Linked DNA regions of Homo sapiens. The protein of the gene in region 1 interacts with the protein of each later gene in a pairwise test. Each region holds a gene or a part of one and is shown on either strand. Other genes may lie near its edges.

Region 1 (6,525 bases):
CTCTTACTGTCTTACTTAAATGTCTGGATTCTGGCCTCTTCCCTGGGGTGTTCTTCTGGTTTTTTACTTCCTGGTATGACCTCTGGACACAGATTTTGGCCTCATATAGGAATGCCACCATTACATATGTCCTCATTTGACATTACTCTCTAACTTAACATGAGCATCTTAGTTTTGTGGTCTTCAGTTTTTAAAGGGATGCTCTGAAAACACTGTTCTGCAGTGCACTGTGCAACCTATTTCACTCCTGGGTTTAGCTGACCTCTTCTTGTGCTAAACTAACTAGGAAAATAAACTAGGACTGATTATCAGTCTCTTTACCTAAATCTTCCTTTTCTTCCCACACTGTAATCATGATTATTTCCCCAGACAGTCTCTATTTCTCTACATTGCACTGCCATAGACTACCCTATTAGCCCCCCTAAATGTAGCTCTTTTGGTTTGACTTTAGTAGTCAATGAAAGAAGGGGTACATCCCCAGTCTCACAGAAAGCACATACACACAGATTGAACACCAGAAACTGGTCTTTCAGTCTTCCATCTTGCCCAATATTTATTTTTTATTTAATATTTTTCATATTGTGCCATTTCCTCAGCATTTACTTACAAATTTAAGTTCCTTACATTAATAGGTTTTCCCTCATGTGAATTCTCTGGTGTTGACTAAGGTTTGAGCTCTGACTGAAGGCTCTTCCACACTCACTGCATTCATAGGGTTTTTCTCCAGTGTGAATTCTAAAGTGTCGAATAAGATGTGAGCTCACTCGGAAGGTTTTCCCACATTCACTACACTCGTAGGGTTTCTCTCTGGTGTGAATTCTCTGATGCCTGATAAGATGTGAGTTCAGGTTGAATGCTCTCCCACATTCTTTGCAACCAAAGGGTCTTTCCCCAGTGTGAATTCGCCGATGTCTAGTAAGATCTGAGCTCTCTGCAAAGCTTTTCCCACATTCATTACATTCATAGCATCTCTCTCCAGTGTGGATTCTCTGATGCCTAGCAAGTTTTGAGCTGTGCCTGAAAGCTTTCCCACATTCATTACACTGATGAGTTTTATCTCCACTGAAAACTGCTGCATGTTTAGCAAGTTTTGGGCTCTTGAAAGATTTTCCATATTGGTGATTTTTTTCTCCAGCATAAATTATTTGATGGTTAATAAAATCTGAGTTCCATTTGAAGCTCTGGTCACAGGTACCATGTTTACAAGATTTCTGGTGTGTGAATTCATTTGAGTTCAGATTTAATCTCCTCTCACATCCATCGTGGCTTATTATTTCACCTCTGACTGTATTTTTGTGGGTGAGGATTTTACCAAAACCTTCATCCTGGGCAGACGAGAGTCTCTGAGACTCCCCTGATTCTTTTTCCCATTGTCTCTTTACCCTGCCTGCAGACTTACAGATGTCTTGAGACTCACCAGATGCTTCTGATATGTATCCTGAGATTCTTCCAGATATAATTCTCTGTGATTCAATTTTTTCAAAAATTTCCAGCTTTGGCATGGATCTACTGTTTTCACTCTCATTATCTAAAATAAAAAAGAAAGGGAAATATTACCTGTTTGCTGCACGAAAAGAAAATTTTATAGCATGCTCAAGATAGTTACATATTGATATGCCCACTTTAATATATGACCTTTCACATGAGAGGAATGATAGAATGAAAGAGGATGATAGGAATGAAAGAAACATTGGTAAGAGCAAGTAATGCCTGCAGTGGTTGGCAGAGAGAGGAATCAGACGTGAAGCATATATATTAGAAAAGATTGGGAGGATTGTCATCAGCAAGAACTCAAGAGATAGGGGGAGATAGAGTACGGAGAAGGAACTCTACAATGTTGACTGCAGCAGATCTTGGGAACCTTGGGTCTATGATACATTTCTAGAGGGAAAATGGAGGCACTACCTCAAAGAAAGCAGATGAGAACACAAGAGAGAAAAGTAAAGCTATAAGTGACTGTGAAGTATGTGTGAGAAAACTTCCATCCACCTATTGTCTATTTCTTCCTCATATTCCATGGTTAATCAGTCTTCTAAATTCTGTCATCACTGTCCACTAAGTGTCCCTTGTATAAATCCCTTCCTTTATATTTCTGCTACCATCGCCATAGTCTCGAACCTTACCATTTCCTATCTAGACTTTAACTGCCTCCTTGCTGTTTTGACTCTGCACTTTTCTTCTTCCTAGTTATCCTAAAGATCCTTACTAGACTAATGGTCATTAAACACTGCCATCCTTTCATACCCTACTCAAAAACCTTGAATCTCTCTCTCTCTTTTTTTGTTCAAGTCTAAATTCCCAAGCCTGGTTTCCAAGATCCATTTATGATCCAGTCTTCACAAATCCCACTCTATACTGTGCTGGAATTGAACCGCCCTTCTTTATTATAAGCTGTCCTTTGTCTACAATACGCTAGGGCAGGAAAGAGGGTTAGGGAGTGCTGTTCATGGGGTGAGGGAAATTTACAATTTTATATACGACAGATGGAGATGTTTCCAGAACAAAACTGAAGGCAGAATATGTAGAAATTTATTAAAAATTAATTGTGGCCAGGCTCCGTGGCTCATGTCTGTAATCCCAGCACTCTGGGAGGCCAAGGCGGGCGGATCACGAAGTCAGGAGTTTGAGACCAGCCTGGCCAACATGGTGAAACCCCGTCTCTACTAAAAATACAAAAATTAGCCGGGCATGGTGGCAGGCACATGTAATCTCAGCTACTCGGGAGGCTGAGGCAGGATAATTGCTTGAACCCAGGAGGTGGAGGTTGCAGTGAGCTGAGATCACGCCACTGCACTCCAGCCTAGGTGACAGAGCAAGACTCTGTGTCAGGAAAAACAAAACAAAACAAAACAAACAAACCAAAAAATTAACGGTAAGTTATTCTTGGGTTTACTATAGGGACAATTCACACCTTAAGTGATACTGCATCTATGAATCTTTTAAATAGATGAGTTTTAGAACAGAGATGAGTATTCTGTGGAAGTAGTCTCTAGAACTATAGCTAACTTTCTATAAAAGTGTAAAAGAGCTTTATAAGACCAAGAGCATAACAGGAAAAATATGGATCACGGTCTATGTTACTTGTGAATTATATACTATTTCTCAGTATATCATCATGTATCTGTTTCTCTTGATCATTATATGTACTTCTCTATGAACATATTTTGCTTCTGTCCATGTATTTCTTTTTCTTTTCCTTCTTTTCTCTTTTCATGATATTTTCTCAACTCATTCACTTTTATTTCCTTTAATTTGGTCATATCATAAAAATGTTCTGTGTTTTGGAAATATTCTGGATAAGGAACAAAATTATCTTTTCCCCTACCATTGGCCAAAGACTCACAGGAAAACAAGTTCTCTCTCTCTTTTTTTTTTCCTTTATGAGATGGAGTCTTGCTCTGTCGCCCAGGCTGGAGTGCAGTGGCGCAGTCTCAGCTCACTGCAAGCTCCGCCTCCCAGGTTCACGCCATTCTCCTGCCTCAGCCTTCCGAGTAGCTGGGACTACAGGTGCTACGGCTAATTTTTTGTATTTTTAGTAGAGATGGGGTTTCACCATGTTAGCCAGGATGGTCTTGATCTCCTGACCTCGTGATCCACCTGCCTTGGCCTCCCAAAGTGCTGGGATTACAGGAGTGAGCCACCGCACCTGGCCACAAGTTCTCTCTTTTCATTGGGTAATAAAGGAAAGGACCATCTACAGTTACCAAGACTAGTTTGTGGAGGGAGATTCATTCCCCTGTTTCTTTAGTGATGTGCACTATATGGCATTCTGCCCCTCACCACAGTCCCATAGGAGCTGGGGTTCTGATGAATCAAAATGGGCCTTGGTCTCCACTGGCTGTAACTTGACATTAAGTGCTGGTCCAGGAGGTGACACTTTTTTCTGGAATATTTCTTGTCCATGTTCATGGGCTTGAACCTGAGAAAAATAAAGTACATTTGGGCTTATAAAAGAATCCCTGTGTTAAACGTCTTCTAACAACAAAGAGAAACTCCCATAGAAATGCAAAACTGGGGAAGGAAGAATCGAGTCTGATTTAATTGTAAAATGTAGTGTGGAATCAAACAGACAGGAAAGGAGACATAAATGCACACTGAACCAACAGCTCCTGCAAGCTAGATATGCAATCTCGGGCCTCTCCTCCCACCGTGGAACTTTATCCATTATGGAGGTCTTAGATCTCCCATCCCCTGTGCACCTGGAGTACTGCTTCATCAGTGCCTCTCTCCAAATCTTCTAGTATGGTCACTGCCTCCTCTCCACTCTCTGGGTAATGTTCATGTACCCAGGCCTGCAAATCTCCTGGCAGGATGGTCAGGAACTGCTCTAGCACCAGCAGTTCCAGAATCTGTTCCTTGGTATGGATCTCTGGCTTCAGCCACTGACAGCAGAGCTCCCGGAGGCGGCTCAGTGCCTCGCGAGGTCCAGGAGAATCCTGGTAGCAGAACTGCCTAAAAAGCTGCCTGCAGAGCTCCTGCTTAAGGAGTTCACTTCTCTGTAAGCAAGTGTCCTGCCCATGGATAAATTCTTCCTCTTCTATCTTCACTATCAGAAGTCCTTCATCCTCTGGAGAGTTCTGGGCTGCAGCTTTCTTTGGTTCTGTAGCCATCTGTGGATAGAATATATTATCAGAACTGCTTTGGAAAGGGTCTTCTTTAGTTTCAAGAGTCCTCCTGAGGGATCAAAAGTTACTATTACTGTCTAAGAAGATGAAAGACCACATAATAAAAATCGTCATTCTCCATTACACAAAAATTTACTGGGCATTTACTATATGCAAAAGCACTGACATACTTGGTTTCTAGAATACAACTGTTAATGATTTCTACTTCAAGATAGCTTAATTTTTAAATTTAAAAATAAGATAAATTAGAAACAATAAACTTAAATGTAATGCTAAATATTAACAATGTACATGTTATTAAATTTTAAAAGTCACAGAGAAAATAAGGATAAAAAAGAAAAATGATAGAAGTGCTTCATAAAATAGGAGATGAGAAAAATACAGATGGTTGCAATGGTCAAGGGAAGCTTAATGCAAACATGAAATTCTGAAGAATAGAAAAGATTTGACTAGGATGTGGGAGGGAAAGAAATAGGAAATTACGAACAGAGAAACAGTCTGAACAATTGGGTAAGAGTAGGAATACAGAAGAGGGAAAGCAAAACGTTTAGTAGGTTTGTATAAGAAAATTATAGAGGCAAAGCTTGGAGATGTTATTGTAGAAAACATCAACTGTGAAGTTCATGAATTTGGAGTTTATCTTTTAGGCACTGGGGAGTCACTGAAGAGGAGTCAATTCTTCTGAGCAGAATGACCTGCTAAACACTGTGGAGATGAATATGTTCTTCATTTCTAGGGTGGGTGGCAATATGAAAAGATAGAGGCCACTGTATTCATGCAAGTATGAGGTTCTTTTTTTTGTTTTTTGAGAGGGAGTCTTACTCTATCACCCAGGCTGGAGTGCAATGGCGCGATCTCGGCTCACTGCAACCTCCGCCTCCCAGGTTCAAGTGATTCTCCTTCCTCAGCCTCCTGAGTAGCTAGGATTTCAGATGCACACCGCCACACCTGGCTAATTTTTTGTATTTTTAGTAGAGATGTGGTTTCACCATGTTGGCCAAGCTGGTCTCAAACTCCTGACCTTGTGATCTGCCCACTGCCCATCTCAGCCTCCCAAATTGCTGGGATTACAGGTGTGAGCCACCGTGCCCGGCCTGAGGTTCTTTTACTAAACATTTCACTAAGTTGACTACTGACTGATGCAATAACACACATTTTATTAAGAATCTTATCACAAGCAAAGCATTGGGCTAGAAGTTGTACAGCAATGGTTTACAAGAAAGTCTGAATATGACACTGGGCTTGCTGCCTAATCATCATATGGGATCTTTGGTAGAAACAGGTTCTTGGGCCCTACCTCTGGAGATGCAGACTAGGGGCCTGCTCCTAGAGATGGTAACTTGGTCAGTATAGTATATGCCTGGAAAATCTGTATTCTAATATACAGCTTAATGGATTAAACAAAAAGTCTTTGAGTTTGAAGAATAGAAAAGATTTGACAAGGATGCGGGAGAGAAAGAAATAAATTCAGTGGGAAGAACTAGTTGGGAAGAAATTATAAAACATGGATACAAAAGATTTAAATGAGAAAACGTTTCACATGACATATACATTGTACATGTTTGTTAAATGTTGAATGTTGAAGTATAAAATGAGTTTATGGTGGAGATACTGAATGTTCTAACGGTCCTGAGGTGGGAAGAGACTGTGAATGGTAGAAGGTATTTCCTAGAGGTGGTGGGTATTAGAAATAAATTTTCGGTGCAGCAAAAGAAATAGCACTCGAACATGAATTTTCTCATCAAGGCAATTTTGCTTCTATAGAAAGGTGTGTCTCGCAGATGGAGCAATGGTGAGAGCATACCTGATCAAGGGAGAGGAAGGGGTTCTTATCTCTGACGCAGGTAGTCCCTACTGCTATGTCGTTCCCCTATTGGCTAGGGTTGGACTGCATAGTCTA
Region 2 (7,029 bases), on another chromosome or scaffold:
ATTCAGAGTTTAACAGGCTAGTGAGATAGGGCAAAACAATTTAATATTTACTGATTTAAACAATCAGGGCCTTTATATTAAGACAATTACTTTTGTTAATTTAAAATAAGTATTCAATCAATCTGAATGGCTTTGGTCATTTATGTAGTAATCTTAATCACTCTCAATTCTTTCTAGTTATGAGGCATAATTTCTCATGAGTAAATTTACCTGTACTTTAATATTAAATATAAGCACCTTTTTAATAACCAGAGTGTCTTTGTAAACATATTCCTGATCATTTTCTGCTGCATATAATAACCACTTATAAGCCAGGAATTACAAATACAGGATGATGGATTGATAAAAATGTCTGTATTCTTTTAGCCACATTTAAGTGGAAAAGTAATAGCTAAATTCCCTAATTACAACCTACATCGGTTATACATACTGATATATATGTATATCAATGTGCATACGTATTGGTACATATGTATTGGCATGTATAACCAATGTAGGTTATAATTAGGGAATTTAGCTATCACTTTTCCACTTTAGCTATAACTGTTCCAACTGTTAACACACTTCGCAGGATTTTGCCAGAGATAGATGTTCCCTCCATTGGAGAGGGAAGGATATTTGCCTGCAGATGCAGACATGCAAGGGAAGAGATTTTGCAAGAGATGAGCTGGAGCAACTGCAGGGATCCAGGAATTGTGCTCTGAGCTTTCTGTTTGCCTGAGGGTAGCAGGTATCTGATAGATGTTTGTTCAATGAAAGCGCTACCTCAGATTCTTCAGAGATGATGCTCCTAGAAGCATCCACAAGCAGCTGATAAAGCCTGGGTTACATCCTTCAGGCTGAATTTCTGTATGATCAGATTCTCCAGGAAAAGCCTCCACTTCCAGAGTTACAGCATCCTGTACCACATTCTTTGGCAAAGATGCTTTGGTGATTCTTACCTACTATAAAACCATGTACACACATGGCCTCTAGGGTACTGACCTCTCCGGGGACCGTTAGACAATGCTGAAGGATGTTTAAAAGATACTTACTGCTCGTGGAGGACAGGTGGCTGTAGTCGGACCTGAAACACAAGACCTCAGCGTTAGTAGAATTCTTTATCCAAATGATTTATTCAAGCCAGAATTTTAAACAGTCAGTGGTAAGTAGCATTTAGCTGGTAAAGAAATGTCACCAATTAAAAACTGCAGTGCTAAGGCTCATTTTATGCAAAATAAAGTTATGTCTGAATTTGAAAGAAAACTTTAAAGGAACTTTAGAATTCTGGGGGCTCTCATGTGAGTTCTGCAAATTCCTCTGATGAGGTTTGGAAGAAGCCATCTAAAGGTTTAGCAAAAATATTGAATGGTTATTTCTCTGGGGAGAAGCCCCAAAGTTTTCAACAGATTCACCACTCACAGATTCACTCCAAAGGTTACTGCAAATGAGCACCCTTCAAATATTCGCACAACACCATGGGGAAATGTTCTTTGCTAACATAAGCAGAGGATCCCAGCGCGAGGAGAGAGGGAACCTCAGCTGCGAAGGTTTCCACATTCAAGGTGGGGCTGACCACCAGGAAACAAAGGCACAATGATATTTCCACTGATTTCAGTTCCATCTGAGAAGAAAGCCTGCTGGATATTAGAGTAACAGGATGTGAGCTGTGATCGGGAAAGGGAAAAGGCAGGCTAAGGCTGGGGTGAAATCGCCCTTTCAGTTTCTATGCTGAGAAATCAGCTGCTGGCATTCAGCCTCCGTAAGAGTGGGGCTCTGGCCAAGGATCTGCTTAATCTCTAGTAAGTTTCTGCCCTACTTCTGTAGCTGTTAAGACTTTCCTCTCTGGCAACAAATTTGATATGGAAGCTACTTATTTTCTTCCCCTAGTGTCCCAAAGTCATTCTCAGTAGGAAATTAATCACTTTAGCACGTAGGGATTTATTCTGCCATGGAAGTTAGGGGACGAAGTTATGCAAATAAACTGCTTAATTATGTTTAATTTTATAGATATACATTCCTTTTATCTCCTTAGTCTCCTGCTGCCTTTCCTGAATCATCCAATTTTCACTCCATTGAACTTCTTGCCACATTTAAAAAAGTACATGCAAAACTTTTTAAAAAAATCATAAGCAGCATGCCTCTTACTGATTAAAATAACCTACATCACTCAAAATGCTGCATTGATTTATTGGTCGAGGAACAAAATGGAAGAAAACAACATGTGGTTTTCACTTTCACAAATGAAATACTTTAGTAGTCATGGAATCAATGAATTTTAAAACTGGAAAGAATAACAACTACCAACATTTGCATATCCCTTTATATATTACAAACTGCATTCATATATATATATATAATTCAATATTTTATTGACTAGGAAATTAAAGTGATACTATCTGTACAGAGGCCAGGAGGTGAGCAATGATTAGTGACTGAAGTTGAGTGTGCACGGTGGGTGGAGAGGAAGGACTCCGAAGGCAGAAGGGATTGACTGGCTAGCACATGGTGACATACTAGCTAAGGGAGACAACAGAGAGGGGAGGGTCAAGGATTAGCAACATTCTGAAGCCCAGGATTTGTAACCCAGTACTGGTGCATTAAATTCTTTCTGGAACCATTCAGGACATAAACTTTAGAACAATACTTGGAAATGTAATTATATATAAACTTAGTGACTGCTCAGCAAATATCCACTGTGGTAGATGCAACAGGAAAACAACTTGATTACAATAAAATCATCTTAAGATGGACAGACTTTAAAGAAATGTCATGACTATTCAAATACAACACACAATAAGAATGGCGATATTTCTATTTCTTTTATTCTTTAAAATGTGTATTTTCAGCTAGGATTTTCCAAATTCTCTTGAAGCAGATGGGATTCACATATGCATACATTTTAAAGATCTGCATACAGATGGATATGTATGTAGAATGAAATTTACACTTGAAACATAGTTCAAGAATCTTAAAGTGCAACAGTATTTTAGTGTCTTGGGACAGGTGCTGGCATAACTGATGCCCCTCTATGAGTCCCTCCACGTTTCTAGAGACTAAGGGCACCACCGGGTTGGGCCCGCCGAATGGTCAGCCTTCTGACAATCACGCTGATCCTGCTGCAGTTCCCTCCACATACAGCAGCCAATCTTTGCAAAGGATAAATCTGATCATGTCTCTCTCTGGATGAAATTCAAGCTCGCTAGTGTAAAACACAAACCCCTCTCTCCGTGACGGATGGCCCAGCTCTGCTGTCCAACTTTCACCCGGGTCCACCGTCACAACGGAAACACACAGAAAGTCACCTACAGCCTCCCACTGCTCTCCAGCCTCTGATCCTCAGTATATGCAATTTGTACACAGTTGCCATAATGATGGAGACACAATTTTGAATTGCTCTTTTCACTTGATACCATCATAACATGCTGCTACACATTTCCTGTAATTATCATTTTAAATTAATACACTATAATTTATTCAACCCTTTTGTTGGCTAAATGATCGCTCCTGGTTGTTCACCTTTACAAAACACACGGCAATGAGGTATTTATGAATATGGCTTTATATTTATTTTCTTTTCCTTAGAAAAATTATCATGGGTGGAAATATAGACTGATTTGAGGTATAAATACTTTTATAGCTCTTAAAATATATTCCAAATAACCTCAAAAGCTTATTTACTAGAAATACGGTTAGGAAAGACAAACTACAAAGCTTGAAACAATTCTGCACATAATAAATAGGTTCAAACCATTTCAGAGAATAACCAGGTATTTCATTAGGGTTCTCTGGACAAGTCTGTACTCTGGACAAGTTTTTTTTAGGCAAGAGGAACAGCAGTAGGGTAGCTGCCTTGAGATTTCTGTTTATTGGTCTCACCTTTTAAGAATTTAGTTAGCTGGCTATGCATAAGACATTCAGCCCTGCCAGAATGAAGCATGAAAGGTGAATTTAGAATGAAAAATTTATACACGATATAGAGCAGAATAATACAAAAATTATGTACATTCACACACCTGACAAATATAGACACATTTCCAAATATTATTTACTATTTGTGCCAATAATGAACAGAAAGTTAGATGCAGTCCCTTGTCTATATTAATTACAATATTACATATAGGGATTACATAGAGGTTCTGTACTTAAGACAGTTTACCCTATCAGACAGCAGCCTAGCTACCAAATGATATACTACATATATACAGAATACTACATATATATATATACTACATATATACAGAATAAATTATTTTCCAGGAAAATCATGGCATAAGAATTGATCTTGGCATTCCTGTAAAATTGATCTTGATGTTTCTGTAAAACATCAGCTATTGAGCATCATGAACTTCTTCTGTTAACCCTCATTGCACTGAATTAAATTTAGTGTTAACTAGCTCCACCTTGAATACAAAGATAACAAAGTACTAACAAACGATCTGGTCTTCTATACAGCATTTCCCCTTTCATCTTTTTAAAAGACCTATCCCATTTAAAAATTCATCCCACCTATTCTTTTCCACCCACCTATTTAAAGTCTAGACCCCTGATTTTTTGTTATGTCTTAAGTCACAGCGAAGTATCAATTGGAGGTCCTCCAAAGAAACAGGGCATGGTATGGCCCTACAGGTTCAGAAGCTCAGTGACAGCTGAGATGGAAGTGGAAGTTCATTAATGCCAGACCAAACTATTGAATGAAAATAACCCATCACATACAAAAGAGTGGCTTACATGCCAAATCTTGAAGACATCACTAATGAAACAGTCATTATAAAGCACTGGCTTTTATTTGGGTTTACAAGGAACTGGCTGTCCTTCTATTTAAGGGATTCTGTTTCTTAAGATAGTTTACCACCATCAGCAGCCGACTTGCCAGTTTTTGCTAACAGAAAGTACATAAAAGCACAAGGCATCTTTCAAGTGGATTTGGAAAATGGGAGTTTCAAAATGATATCAATTGCTACAGAAGAATACTAGTTTGCTTTTAGTCTTGGCCTGTATTAGGTGGGTGAGACAGCAGCAGCAGCATTTCAAGCAAAAGAAAATGTCTGAGCAGAAAACAAGAATTAATTACAGATCAGACAGCTCCTGGAGAGGCAACTTCACTAGGTGGGAAGCATACTGGAGATCCAGGCTTCAATTCATGCCTCTAACGAGCCATGTGCCCTCTGAGTCTCCATTTCCTCATCTGTAAAATATAATTATTAGAATAGTGAGGCATGCCCTGTAGTCTCTCAGATGCTCTGAATGATCAAATTACTTAAGGTATTTAAAAGCAACAGAGGATCTATTGTGATGAGTTTGAAAAACATATGGTCTTGAGTTCACCATTTTTATTAAATAAAACTCTAAGTTTATAATTTGGAGTGTTCCTCATAACAATAATAATATAGTATGGTGAGAAATAATCATGTACTAAGGGTTCTAGACACTGAACAGCCACTGTTCTAGGGGCTTTAAATATATATGCTCATTTAATCCTCACACCAACCCTAGAAGGTAGGTACTACTATCGTCATCCCTCTTGTACAGAGGAGGAAACTGAGAGCAGAGAGAGGTTAAGTCACTGGATCAAGGTTTCACAGTCCCTAAGTGGAGGAGCCAGAATATGAATGCAAGCAGGCTGGCTCTTGTGACTGTAACTTTCAAAGTGGCCAACATGGCCACTGGCAGTGGGACCCACAAAGTTTCTCGGAACTGTTTCTTCCATCATGCCACTGAAAGGATAATCAGCTTAAGCAATACCCTGACAGCCCTTGTTTCTGTGTTTTGTTCACACCCCCTTACCCCAAATTCTGATGATCCTAACTACCCACTCTCTCTCTCTGCCTGACCCTAGGTAGTTGAGCATTGCTGCGAGAAAATAAATAACAACGGGAACTCGTACCCCTTGTTATTTATTTAAATACGTAATTGCAAATTTCAACTGGGCACCCACTCAACATTGCCCCAAACAACTATTCAAATCTCCATTCTCCTCAGATGATGGAGGGCTGTATTTACACCAAAGAGAAACCCCATCTTGCCTGCCCTTCTAATTGCAGGAGGGGATGTCCTGCCTCCTACCTAAAGCCATCCATCCCCCTGTGGTATGAAGTCCATCTGCCTCCACTTTTTCAGAATGCTGACACTATAGGGCCAGAAGCAGTGGCTCACAACTATAATCCTAGTGCTTTGGGAGGCCAAGGTGGAAGGACTGCTTGAGGCCAGGAGTTTAAGACAGTTTCTGAGCAACATAGCAGGACCTTGTGTTTATAAAAATAAAAAAATTAGCTGGGCATGGTGTCGGTGGTGCGGGCCTGTAATCCCAGCTACTTAGGAGGCTGAGGTGGGAGGATTACTTGAGCCTTGGAATTTGAGGTTGCAGTGAGCCATGATTCCACCAATGCACTCCAGCCTGGGTGACAGAGAGACCTGTCTGTTAAAAAAAAAAAAAAAAAAAAAAAAAAAAAAAAAAAGAAAGCAAGCAAGCAACATTACAGATTATCATCTTTTCTCCTCCTTCTCCTTCCCCCTTCTATAGAATCCTTTCTATCACACTGATTGCTCAATTAGCACCTATATTTAAGAAATCTTTCTTCACTCCACTCTCCCCTTTAGCTACTGCCTCTTTTTGCCTCTCCTTTTTCCAGACAAAGGAATCCACCTGTCTCCTTTTCTTCACCTTCTACTGCCTTCTAGAGCCACTCTAATCTGGCTCCTGCCTCCACCACCCCGCTGTGAAATACCACTCTTCCTTCACTTCATCATCTCCATTTAAAAAAGACATTTAGCGTTCCTCATCTTCATTAGTTTCTCAGTAGCATAGTTGATCTCTCCTTCCTTTCTCAAAAACTCAAACCTCCCTTGGCTTCAATGATTCATATTCTTCTTTCTTTGACTCCAAGTCTACTCTTTCTCAGGCTCCTTTATCAGCTCATTCTCATTGACTGGGCGTTTAAATATAGTTTCTCAAGGCTGGTCTTAAAAAGCACCTGCTGCACAGAGTTGTTGAAGGATTCGAGGAGTCCATGAAATACATAAAGGCTTAGAACAGTAGGTGGCACATAC

What was found. The genes of interacting proteins can lie anywhere in the genome.
Region 2: the proteins of ZNF165 (region 1) and FAM124A interact in a two-hybrid assay, tested with the Homo sapiens proteins (2 studies listed by BioGRID and IntAct).

The regions. Positions count from the first base shown.
Region 1 is NC_000006.12:28,083,566-28,090,090, reverse strand, and holds the end of ZNF165 (zinc finger protein 165), read right to left. Parts: intron 4,611-6,525; coding exon 4,200-4,610; intron 3,920-4,199; coding exon 3,781-3,919; exon of another isoform or gene 3,733-3,780; coding exon of another isoform or gene 3,705-3,732; intron 1,529-3,704; coding exon 621-1,528; 3' UTR 528-620; downstream 1-527. UniProt on the Homo sapiens protein: May be involved in transcriptional regulation.
Region 2 is NC_000013.11:51,225,385-51,232,413, reverse strand, and holds part of FAM124A (protein FAM124A), read right to left. Parts: intron 1,067-7,029; coding exon 1,035-1,066; intron 1-1,034.